Linked DNA regions of Homo sapiens: region 2 is linked to region 1. The links come from fine-mapping of genetic effects on gene expression. Tissue or cell type: blood mononuclear cells. Region 1 holds a variant in brackets; the other region holds the start of a gene. All regions are shown on one strand. Distances are between the middles of the regions.

The links. PIP is the estimated chance that this variant, and not a neighbour inherited with it, causes the effect.
Region 2: it holds the start of PLEC, and the variant in region 1 is fine-mapped to the expression of PLEC in blood mononuclear cells (TOPMed, PIP above 0.99).

The regions. Positions count from the first base shown.
Region 1 is chr8:143,958,689-143,964,047 of GRCh38, forward strand. It overlaps a transcript of PLEC not described here. Among named protein-coding and RNA genes, the nearest start is that of MIR661, 16 kb to the left of the region's middle. The variant A/G (reference allele first, on the strand shown) is at 2,486.
Region 2 is chr8:143,937,498-143,942,856 of GRCh38, forward strand. PLEC (plectin) reads right to left here and starts at 2,100. Exons shown (of 32, transcript NM_201384.3): 1 at 1,853-2,100; 2 at 1,134-1,195; 3 at 654-743. The coding sequence starts at 1,964. RefSeq lists silencers at 1,717-1,816, 2,097-2,326, 4,574-4,663, 4,884-5,343 and enhancers at 1,837-2,076, 2,487-2,546, 2,724-3,018.

The DNA.
Region 1 (5,359 bases):
GGCACCTGCTCTGCTGCAGCAGGGTGGACCTCGCCAGGCCTCTGTGGAGAGGCTTCTCACCTGATCCATGGTGGCTCCCCCTTCCCTCCCTCTCAGCCCTCCAACACCGAGACACCTGTGGGCCCCTGGGGCGGCTGCCTCACCCAGCACCAGACACGAAGGTGTCACCACAGGAAACATGGAGCAAGAGAAGAAATGAATTCCTGGAGTTCAGGGATAATGCACTTTCCCAGAACTCTGTTAATATCGTTGACTTCACTAGCAGATTAAAGGAGAAAACCGGTATATTGATCTAGAAAATCTCGACAGCTCATTTGATAAAAACCAGTATTTATAACAAGGAATGAGCTTACATCGTTAACATGCAAATAAATGACCCTTGTAGCACAGCGGGGCACCCTCCCAGTGTGAGGCGAGGCTGCTGAGGGGAGGGCGTGTGAGGGTGAATGCGGACGGTGCAGGCGCAGCTCTCGGTCCAGCGCCAGGACATGGGACAGCATTTACCCAAGTCAGCACTGCTCCTCTTGGCACCTGAAACAACTCAACTCACCATTTACTGGAGCTCAGAGAAAGTTCATTGAGAGGCTGGCTTCAAACGCAGTTAAAAGACCCGAGAGATTTCTTTAGGCCAGTAATAACAAGTTAGGAAAATACAGCAGGAAAAACTCTTCATCAGCACAAAACGTGCTGGAATAAGATAACTGACGATCGGTCAGAGCTGATGCAGGGAACGCCCCGGCTCCAGGATGGCTCCAGGACCAGGCTCGGGGTCCGGGATGCAGAGGCCCAGGTGGCAGATGCCGCGCTAACCTGACGCGGCCGCAGTTCTGCTCACCCTCCCGCTGGCTCTGCCAGGAGACTCCTTACACAAGTTCCCGTCAGACAGCGAGGCCATGTGACTTGTCTGAAGCTCCAACACCGGGTGCTGGGCAGGTGGGAGGAGTCGGCCCACTTGGGCACTGCTGGAGGGACGACGACTGCAGTACCTAGCCAGCAACTTAGAAATTGTTTAAAAATTGTGTCTGAAACCTGGTGTGGTGGCTCACGCCTGTAATCCCAGCACTGTGGGAGGCCAAGGCGGGCAGATCACGAGGTCAGGAGATTGAGACCATCCTGGCTAACACAGTGAAACCCCATCTCTACTAAAAATACAAAATATTAGCCGGGTGTGGTGGCGGGCGCCTGTAGTCCCAGCTACTCAGGAGGCTGAGGCAGGAGAAGTGGAGGTTGCATTGAGCTGAGATCATGCCACTACACTCCAGCTTGGGCGACAGAGTGAGACTCCGTCTCAAAAAAAATAAAAAAGAACTGGCCAGGCACGCGGTGGCTCACGCCTGTAATCCCAGCACTTTGGGAGGCCGAGGCAGGCAGATCACCTGAAGTTGGGAGTTCGAGACCAGCCTGACCAACATGGAGAAACCCTGTCTCTACTAAAAATACAAAATTAGCTGGGCATGGTGGTGCATGCCTGTAATCCCAGCTACTTGTGAGGCTGAAGCAGAAGAATCGCTTGAACTCGGAGGGCGGAGGTTGCAGTGAGCCGAGATCATGCCATTGTACTCCAGCCTGGGCAACAAGAGCGAAACTCCGTCTCAAATAATAATAATAATAATAATAAAATAAACAATAAAATAAAATAAAAACTTAGGCCAAGCCCAGTGGCTCATGCCTGTAATTCAGCACTTTGGGAGGTCAAGGCGGGCGGATCACCTGAGGTCAGAAGTTCGAGACCAGCCTGGCCAACAAGGTGAAACCCCGTCTCTACTAAAAATACAAAAATTAGCCGGGTGTGGTGGCGGGTGCCTGTAATCCCAGCTACTCAGGAGGCTGAGGCAGGAGAATCCCTCTAACCCGGGAGGCGGAGGTTGCAGTGAGCTGAGACTGCATCTCTGCACTCCAGCCTGGGTGATAAAGCAAGACTCTGTCTCAAGAAAAAAAAAAAGAACTTATAACAGTTTACATTCTTCCCTTCACTAAACTTTAAAAATCAAAATCGTGTTGGAATAGAAAATATTCACGTGACTCAAACACTGAGAGTAGACAGAGAAGTCTTGCTCCCCTCCCTTCTCCCTGTCTCCCCCCACCCACACACACAGTGTGAAAATCACTGTTAGTGGCTTCCTGTTTGTTTCTCCAGAATTTCTTTACAGAAAATCAAGCAAATACCATGTGATTCTTGGTTTTCTTCCTTTTAACACAAACGGTGAAATCTTCCGGGCACCATTCTGCCCCTGCTTTCCCACCCACCCCACAGCTGGAGGCCTCCCGCTCTGCACGGGGACCGTGACCCACGTCTGGCCATGCAGAGCGGCACGTGTGGGCCCAGCCTCTGAGCGCACTCAGGCCAGTGACCATCGTCTGCTCGGACACACACTGCGCGTTTGTGGCTCTGACAGACGCTTTCTCTGGCCTGGTTCCCACAGCTTCAGCAACAGAACCTAGAAATCCAGATTTTTGATTTTTGCCAATACGATAGGTAAAAAAC[A/G]GTATCTTGATGTAAATTAAAGCTTAAATTTTGAAAACCACTTGACCCAGAAATTCCTTTTTTTTTTTTTGAGACAGAGTCTTGCCCTGTCGCCCAGGCTGGAGTGCAATGGCGCGATCTCAGCTCACTGCAACCTCCGCCTCCCAGGTTCAAGTGATTCTCCTGCCTCAGCCTCCTGCGTAGCGGGGATTACAGGCGTGCACCACCACACCCTGCTAATTTTTGTATTTTTAGTAGAGACAGCGTTTCACCATGTTGGTTAGGCTGGTCTCGTACTCCTGACCTCGTGATCTGCCCAACTCGGCCCCCCAAAGTGTTGGGATTACAGGCGTGAGCCACCGCACCTGGCCAGAAATTCCCTTTTTAACAACAGTCATAGAGATGCACAATGACCCAGCTACAACACTGTTCACTGCAGTCATTTCTAATACAAAAATCCAAAATTAAACTCCGTGTCCTAGGAGAAAGGATTGATTGGTTAAATATGATATGGTTTCCATACAGGGGAATGCTGTATTGTAAATTAATGTCACAGAGAGATGCCCAAGCTGTATCACTAAGTAAAAGAAGTTACTTATGTCTAAAATACTTCATAACATTAAATCATGAAATTACAGATAAATTAACACACACTAAAGAACACTGTGCATGCTTTTTTATTTTTTTATTCTTTTTGAGACAGGGTCTTGCTCTTGTAGCCCAGGTTCACTGCAGTGTTGACATTCTGGGCTCAAGAGATCCTCCCACCTCAGGCTCCCAAAGTGCTGGGATTACAGGCATGTGCCACCTGTAATCACGTGCCCAGCCCACTGTGCACGCTTTTTAAAACAATGACTATGGAACAAAAATGTGTAAGTTCTACATTAACCAACTACTGCAGGATGGCTGGGTAGGTCCAATGGTGGCCACAAAAAAATCTATGTCCATGTCCCTGGAGCTCATAAATGTGGCCTTATTTGTAAACAGGGTCTCTGCAGATATAATTAAATAAAGGATCTTGAGATGAGATCATCTTGGATTACCTGGATGGGCCCTAGATCCAAAAGCAAGTGTCCTTAGACGAGGAGAGACACAGAGGCAGGGATTGGCATGATGCAGCCACAAGCCAAGGGGCAGTGGAGTTGGAAGAGGCAGGCGGCTATTCCTAGGCTCTTCCCGGGTGCCTTCGGAGAAAGCGTGGACCTGCCGACACCGGATTTTTAACTTCTGGCCTCCGGAACAATCAAAAGATAAATTTCTATTGTTTTAGGGCGCCCTGCCTGTGGCTCTTCCCTGTGGGAATCAAAGGAAATCAATACAGACAGCGAGCAGGAGCAGGGTGCCTCTGTGACGAATATCTGAAAATGTGGATGTGGCTTTGCAATTGGGTAATAAACAGAAGCTGGGACATCTTGAGGCACACAGTAGAAAAAGCCTAGCCTGTCTGACCAGACGGTTGGTAGAAATATGGGTATTAAAGGTGCTTGTGGTGAAGCCTTAGAAGGCAACGAGGAAAGTGGAGGAAAGGTGCTTCTCACATTGAAGCGAAACTTCGCCGAACTGTGTTCACTGTCGGGTGCTCAACAGAACTTGTAAGCAATGAACTTGGATATTTAGCTGAAAAGATTTCCAAGCAAAGTGTGGAAGGTGTGGCTTGGCTGCTTCTTGCTGCTTATGGTAAAGTACAGGAAGAAAGAGATAAATTGAGGAAGGAACTATTAAGCAAAAAGGAAACAGCATGGGTGATTTGGGATATCTGCAGCCTATTTAGATTGCAAAAGATGCTCATGTTGGGAGGTTCACTGTTAGGAAAGTGTGTTCTGCAGAGAAAGCCATCTCTGCAGAGATGAGGTATGTGACTCATGGGTCCATTCACTCATCTCAACAGAAGCCAGGAATAGAGACAAGATTATCCAGGGAGGATCCGAGTGAACCCTTCTCTCTAATGGCCTGGCTCCCTGTGACATACAGGGGAGACCCAGAAGGTTTATGAGAATGTTTTACCAGCAGAAACACTGCCTGCTTGGATTGATGGGAACAGAGACAGGATGAAATGAAGGAAGGTATTGGGCTTCTGAGAGTCTACAGGCAAGAAACAGGATGACAGACCCAGGCAGCTGCAAACATGTGCTACCCTTTGAGAAAAAGGAAGAATGACTCCAAGGTCAGGGCCTTAGGCCTAGAGGCAGAGGCTGGCAGAGGTGCAGGTGCAGAGGGTGGGGCACTGAGCCACAGAAGAGCATTCACGGGCCTTGAAACCCCACGGAATTTGCCCTGCTGGATTTCAGACTTGCTTGGGACTGGCAACCCCTTTATTCCTTTATATTTCTCCCTTTGGGAATGGTGATGTCTAGTCTATGCCTAGCCCAACATTGCAGTTTGGAGGCATAAAACTTGCTTTCTAGTTTTACAAGTAAAAAGATGGAGAAAAATTTTGCCCCCATCTGGATCCTACCCAGAGCCTCACCAACACCTGATTTAGACACAACTTCGATGATCAGATTTGGGACTTCTGAGCTGATTAAATGTTGTTCTTGTTTTTTTCAAGATGGGGTCTCATTCTGTCACCTGGGTTCAGCCTCCAGGGTTAAGCAATCCTCCTACCTCCACCTCCTGAGCAGCTGGGACTACAGCCATGTGCCACCACACCTGGCTAATTTTTTTTTTTTTTTTTTTTTGAGATGGAGTCTTGCTCTGTCACCCAGGCTGGAGTGCATTGGTGCAGTCTCGGCCCACTGAAACCTCTGCCTCTCGGGTTCAAGCAAGTCTCGTGCCTCATACACCTGAGTAGCTGGGATTATTGGTGTGTACTACCATGACTGGCTGATTTTTGTATTTTTAGTAGAGACAAGGCTTCACCATGTTGGCCAGGCTGGTCTCCTGATCTCAGGTGAT
Region 2 (5,359 bases), 21 kb before region 1:
GGAAGCCTCGTGTGGAGGGCAGTGGCACTAAAGGGGGGGTCCTCCTGCCTGGCGGTGGCAGCCACAGCAGCCACCGGTGGGTCCCAGGCCAGCTCTGGGCAGCACGGTGGACGGGCAGCTTGACACCCAACCACCTACCCGCCCAAGAGCCAGGCAGGGGTTGGCCGACGGGCCACCAGCCCCCAGAAAGCCGGGCTCCACGGTCTTGGGGAGCTCCCGTGCCGCTGCAGCCGGCAGGCACAGCCACTCACCAGGCGTGAGCTCCTGCTTACGTCCCGCTCCCTCGGCTGCCCGGCCAGAGCAGGGCAAAGGGTAAAGGGCAGAGGTCAAGGTTCAGAGTCCAAGCAGCAGAGAAACCAAAGCAAAGCGGAGCATGAGGTTACTGTGTCCCGACGCGGAGGGCGGCAAGGCCCAGAGCAGCCGAGGTCCGAGGGTTGCGGCCACTCCCAGGCCAGGCCCTCGGCTGTGATGCCCAGCAGCCTGGGCGGGAGGTGCTGCCAGGGACGAGGCCAGCCTGCCCCCAGGGAGAAGGCAGGAGGGGTTGAGCTGGATTCCAAGTAGAGTGGGCGGCCGGAGAGGCCCCAAGGAGGGAAGGCAGGCAGAGGTCTCCAGGTGGGGCAGGCGGGGCCCGGAGGGGGCAGGGGCACACGTACCAGGCTGTCCCCCGAGAGGACCTCCAGCAGGGAGATGAGGTTGTGGCCATCGCGGAGGTCTTCATACAGGTCACTGATGTGCCTCTGGGCCTGTGGGGACAGCAGCGGCTGAGGTGGCCAGTCCCCCAGAGCCACCAATAGGCCCTGAGTGGCTGATCTACAGAGTGGGTGCTGGTCCCAGAGGGAAGGAGGCGGGGGCTGAGTCTCCCGGGAGCCCACGGAACACACCCTGCCCCACGGAGGCACCTACCTCTGCCCGCCAGTGCTGCAAGGAGAGACCAGGAAAGACCAGAAGGAAGAGGAGGAAGAGAGAGGCAGGAGCAGGCGTAGGGAAGAAAGAGGACAGAAAATAACAGGTTTCAGAGATGAAAGGTGAGCACACAGGCAGCATGGGGACAGCCTTGGGCGGCAGGGGCCACCCTCCCTCAGCGCCTCCCACAGCCTCAGCCCCTGTGACACGCACCAGCATGCGCCACCAACCTTGATGAGGTGCTTGTTGACCCACTTGGTGAAGGTTTTCTTCTGCACACGATCCCGCTCATCTGGGGGAGACAAGACCAGCTTACCTGGGGCCTGGGAGAAGCCCCGGGGGCCCTCAGGTGACCACCGTGCAGACACAGCAGCCTGGCTGGCCAGGTCCTGCCTGGGGAGCCCCAAAGCCTCCCTCAGATCACACACTGAGACCCAGGCGCCCTCACCCGCAGCCCAGCCACACAGCAGAGACCCAGGTGCCAGGGGCCCAGGCGCCACCAGGTGCAGCCACCCCACCCCGGACTCTTCCCCCGAGGAAATGGGAGGGTCCTGGGCGCACCCTGAGCCCAGGGCACACAAGTCCCGTCCTGCAGTCCCCCCCGGCCTCTACAGACTGAGACCCAAGCAGGGGTGTGGCAGAGCCAGGGCCCGGGCCCGCTGGGGTGTTGGAAGGGAAGCCGCGTGTGCTGCTGACAGGGCAGCGAACCTTCCCCAGAGCGCAGAGTTCCTCGCCCTTCCAGGCCCGACATCTGACGCTCGGAGGCCCCCGTCAGCCTCGCGGGCGCCTGTCGGCCCACTCCGTGTTGGGTGGGGATGGCTGGCCCCCGACCCCCATCTCCAAGACCAGCCCCCCAGCGGTGCCAAGGCTTTCCTGCCACAGGAAGTGGGCCTTCCTCCCGCAGGGGCCCGCCCTGCCTGGCGGGGGTGCCCGAGGGGAGCCCTGCTACCTTTCTTGCCCTCAGAGGCCCTGAGCACAGCCAGGTACAGGTTGTCCTCCGAGCTGGTTCTCTTTCGGCCCAGGCCCTCGGGCTGCGGCACGCGGAGCTGGTGCTGAGACATGCTGCCCCCACACCTTCGTCGCCCGGACCCTCGGCCTCAGGCACGGTGCTCTGGGCAGCCCCGTGTGGCACACAGGCAGCTGAAGGCTGGCGGCCCCACGAGACGCTCACTCGGCACAGGCTCAGCTCAGAGCCCCAGTCGGTGCGGCCACTCCCTGCCTGCTGTACTCCCCGGCGAGGCCGGCCCGCCCCCGAGGCCCCACCCTGCCCAGGCCGCCGCCAGGGAGGGGAGTGTCCCGGCGGGAAGGAGCAAGCAGCCCCCTCCCCCACAGACACGCCCTCGGCCCGCCAGAAACAGGAAACCGGGGTTTCCTCACCCACCCCGACCACTGCAGCCCCCTAGGGGGACCTGGGGACACGGGGAGCTGGCACTTCACTGCACACCAAATGGTGCCAGGACCGCAGAGGAACACAGGCCGTCCCCACAGCCACCCAGAAGGACCCCCCAACAGACTGAAGGGCTCCCCCGACGGGAGGGGCTCTGAGGCCACGCCTCTCTTTGGAGCTCCCTCCAGGCCTGGGCCAGGCCCTGCTTCAGCCTCTGCCCACCCACCCTGCCAGGGCGGACTCAAGAAGCCGCTGATACCTGGCGAGGGGAGGGGACCTGCTGCCTGTCAGCTCTTGCAGCCCCCCAATCACACCTCTTCACAGACCTGCATGAAGCGGGGAGCACACCCTGCCCCATGGTGCCTGCCCTGGCCCTGGGGCCAGTGGGGTCCCACCCCAGGCCTGGCCCCTCCCAAGCTGCCCACCTGGCACATCCTGGAGCAGTGCCCACCTGCGGAGCCCACCCTGCCCCAGGCAGACACCTCACGTCGGAGGCGCGTAGCTGAGGGCTGACTCACGGAGGCCGGGCCTCATGGGGGAATGGAGCATCGGGAAGCCCCAGGAGGGGCCTCGCCAGTGAGTCAGGGATGGGGAGGGGGCCCAAGCCTGTGACTCACAGAGGGGAAGCCACACCTGAGGCAGGACCTGGGCGACCCCAGGGGTGGGGGGTGCTGTTTGCAGCTGGGTGGGGCTCAAGGGAAGCAGTCTCATGCTGTAAAGGGCAAAGGGCAAAGGGCCTGCGCTGGCTGGGGCCTCCGGCTCCCTGGGGTCCGGGGCGGAGCTGCCTCTGGCCAGCTTCTGGGCCTGCCCAGCCCACCCGACCACCATAGGAAAGAATGCGCTGCCCCAACCACAAGAATGTTCCAGCCGCACATCAGGCAGATTCGGTCCAGCTGGGAGCTGCACTCGGCCTCAGTTCTGGGAAGAGCTCACCCCACCTCATTCCTACTGCCCCTGAGGCCGTGAGGGGGCACCAGAACCCTCACAATGGGGGGTGCCCAAACCCCTCAGAGGTGGGGAAGCCCCCACTCCACGCCAAGGGGCACAGCCAGCCCCTAGGGCTCTGCCACATCGTACACGCCGCCCAACGAAGACACCCCTTGGTCTCCATGCATGGTCTCTGAGCCTGGCATGAGATTCAGGGTGACCCTCTTGCTCTGCCTGTCCGGCCCAGCAGCCTCCAGAACCTCAGGAGTCACCAGAAGCCCCCAAATCAAAATCTGACCCCGCACTGGTCAGCACCTCCAGTCTTGTGCCCAAGGGCACCCCGGACCCCACACCTCTGCCGCCCCTCCCTGGGTCCAAAGCCTCTGGAAACACTGTCGCCTCTTCAGAAGCCCTGGGCCAGCAGCTACCCTGAGGCCAAGCCCCGCGCCTGCTGGGTATGGGCTCTGGGGGCCCGGCCGTGACCAGGTGGCTCCTGCCTGCAGGAACGGGGCTGCCACTCTGCTGAGGCACAGTGTGAGATCCCGGAACAGCCAGGGAGGTGGGCACAGGGAGTCCACGACAGCTGGAAACTGGGAGCCGGGGCCAAGGTCCAGGACCCACGTGGAGCCCACCCCAGCCAGGCCCCTGTTCCAGCCTTCTCCCTGCCACTAACAGGCCTCCAAAGATGCCGCCCTGGGCCGGGCCAGGGTCAGGAATGGGGCAGGGGCTCAGGGAAGGGAAGGGGCACGGTGGGGACTCCAGACACGGACTCGGGCAAGGCTGGGACCGGGTGAGGAGAAGGGCTGGGGCGGGGCAGGGCTGGGACCAGGTGGGCTGGGGGCTCGGTCAGGGGCCTCCACCTCCCAAGCCTGGCTCAAGCTCCCCTTCCCTACTTCCTGCCTCTGGGTGCCTCTTTGCTCTGAGCTCTTCCCTCCTCATCACCTCCCCTCCCTCCCAGCCCAGCCTGCCCCGCCCCATCCAATCCTATTCTGACCCTAAAACCAACAGACACACCCGCCCCACCCAGCCAGGCTACACCCACCCTCTACAGCTGCAGCTCAGCTGGCTCTCCCACCTGGGACGCACCCAGAACACCCCCAGCTCAGGTGCCTCTGCACACCTGCCTGACACCTGTGCTGTCCAGGGCTGCTGACCCTCGGCCGCCAGCCCAGGGTCCCTCACGACAGGCACTGCCGTGGCCCTCTGAGGAGTATCGCCCCCGTTTTACAGGTGTGGACCCTATGGCTGAGGTCCCGCAGCTAGTGGAGACGGTCCTAGGATGGAAACCCCAAGACTGGGAAGGGAATCCCACTGGCCCAGGACTGCAGCAAGTCCACAGAAGGCCTGGAGCCCCGCCTTCAGCACCTCCTCCCTCCCCCGTGTCCTGGAAACCCAGGCCAAAGCCCAGGCTGACGTGGAACAGCCGGGGGTGGGCCAGCCCCGCCCCCTCCAGCCCCGCCCCCTCCAGCCCCTTCTCTAGAGACAAACAAATGGGGGTAGGGGAACATCACCCCGCCTTCCTCCCCAGGTGTTTCCGGAGCTCGGGGGCAAGGCTGCACCGGGCCAAGGCGCCACCCCCATCCCAGCCCAGGCGGCGGTTCCCAGCAGAGACCCAGCCCCACTAGGTGAGAGCGATGGTGGCCCCTTCTGTGCCACCGGCCACGCCACTGCACCCACCTACGCAGCACAGCTGCTGGTAGAGGTAGCCCCTGCGGGCCGGCTCGCAGCCCCCGTCCAGCCAGCACGGCCGCTCCAGCAAGACCTCCCTCGGCGAGGCAAAGGCGCCCCCCGCCCCCGACATGCCGGCCACGGCCGGAGCCCTGGTTCGGCCCACGGACAGTGCGGGGAGCTGGACCGCGGCGGCGCCTCTGCTTCCAGCCCACGCTGCGAGGCTGCCGGCTTCGCTCTCCACCTCTTCCACCTCCCCCCCACAATCCGCCCACTGCGGGAGCGAGGCCCAGACCCAAAGAACCTGCCCCTGGCGCGCAGCCCCGCCCAGCGCAGCCAGGAAGCCGCGCCCCAACCCACGGGCCGGGCTGGGAGGCTGCCCTGGGACTGAAGCGGCATGGGAGGGGGCCTCCCAGCAGGATGTGCGGTGGGGACTGCAGGGCCCAGGGAGGAAGGCAGGGCATGGGGCCAGGT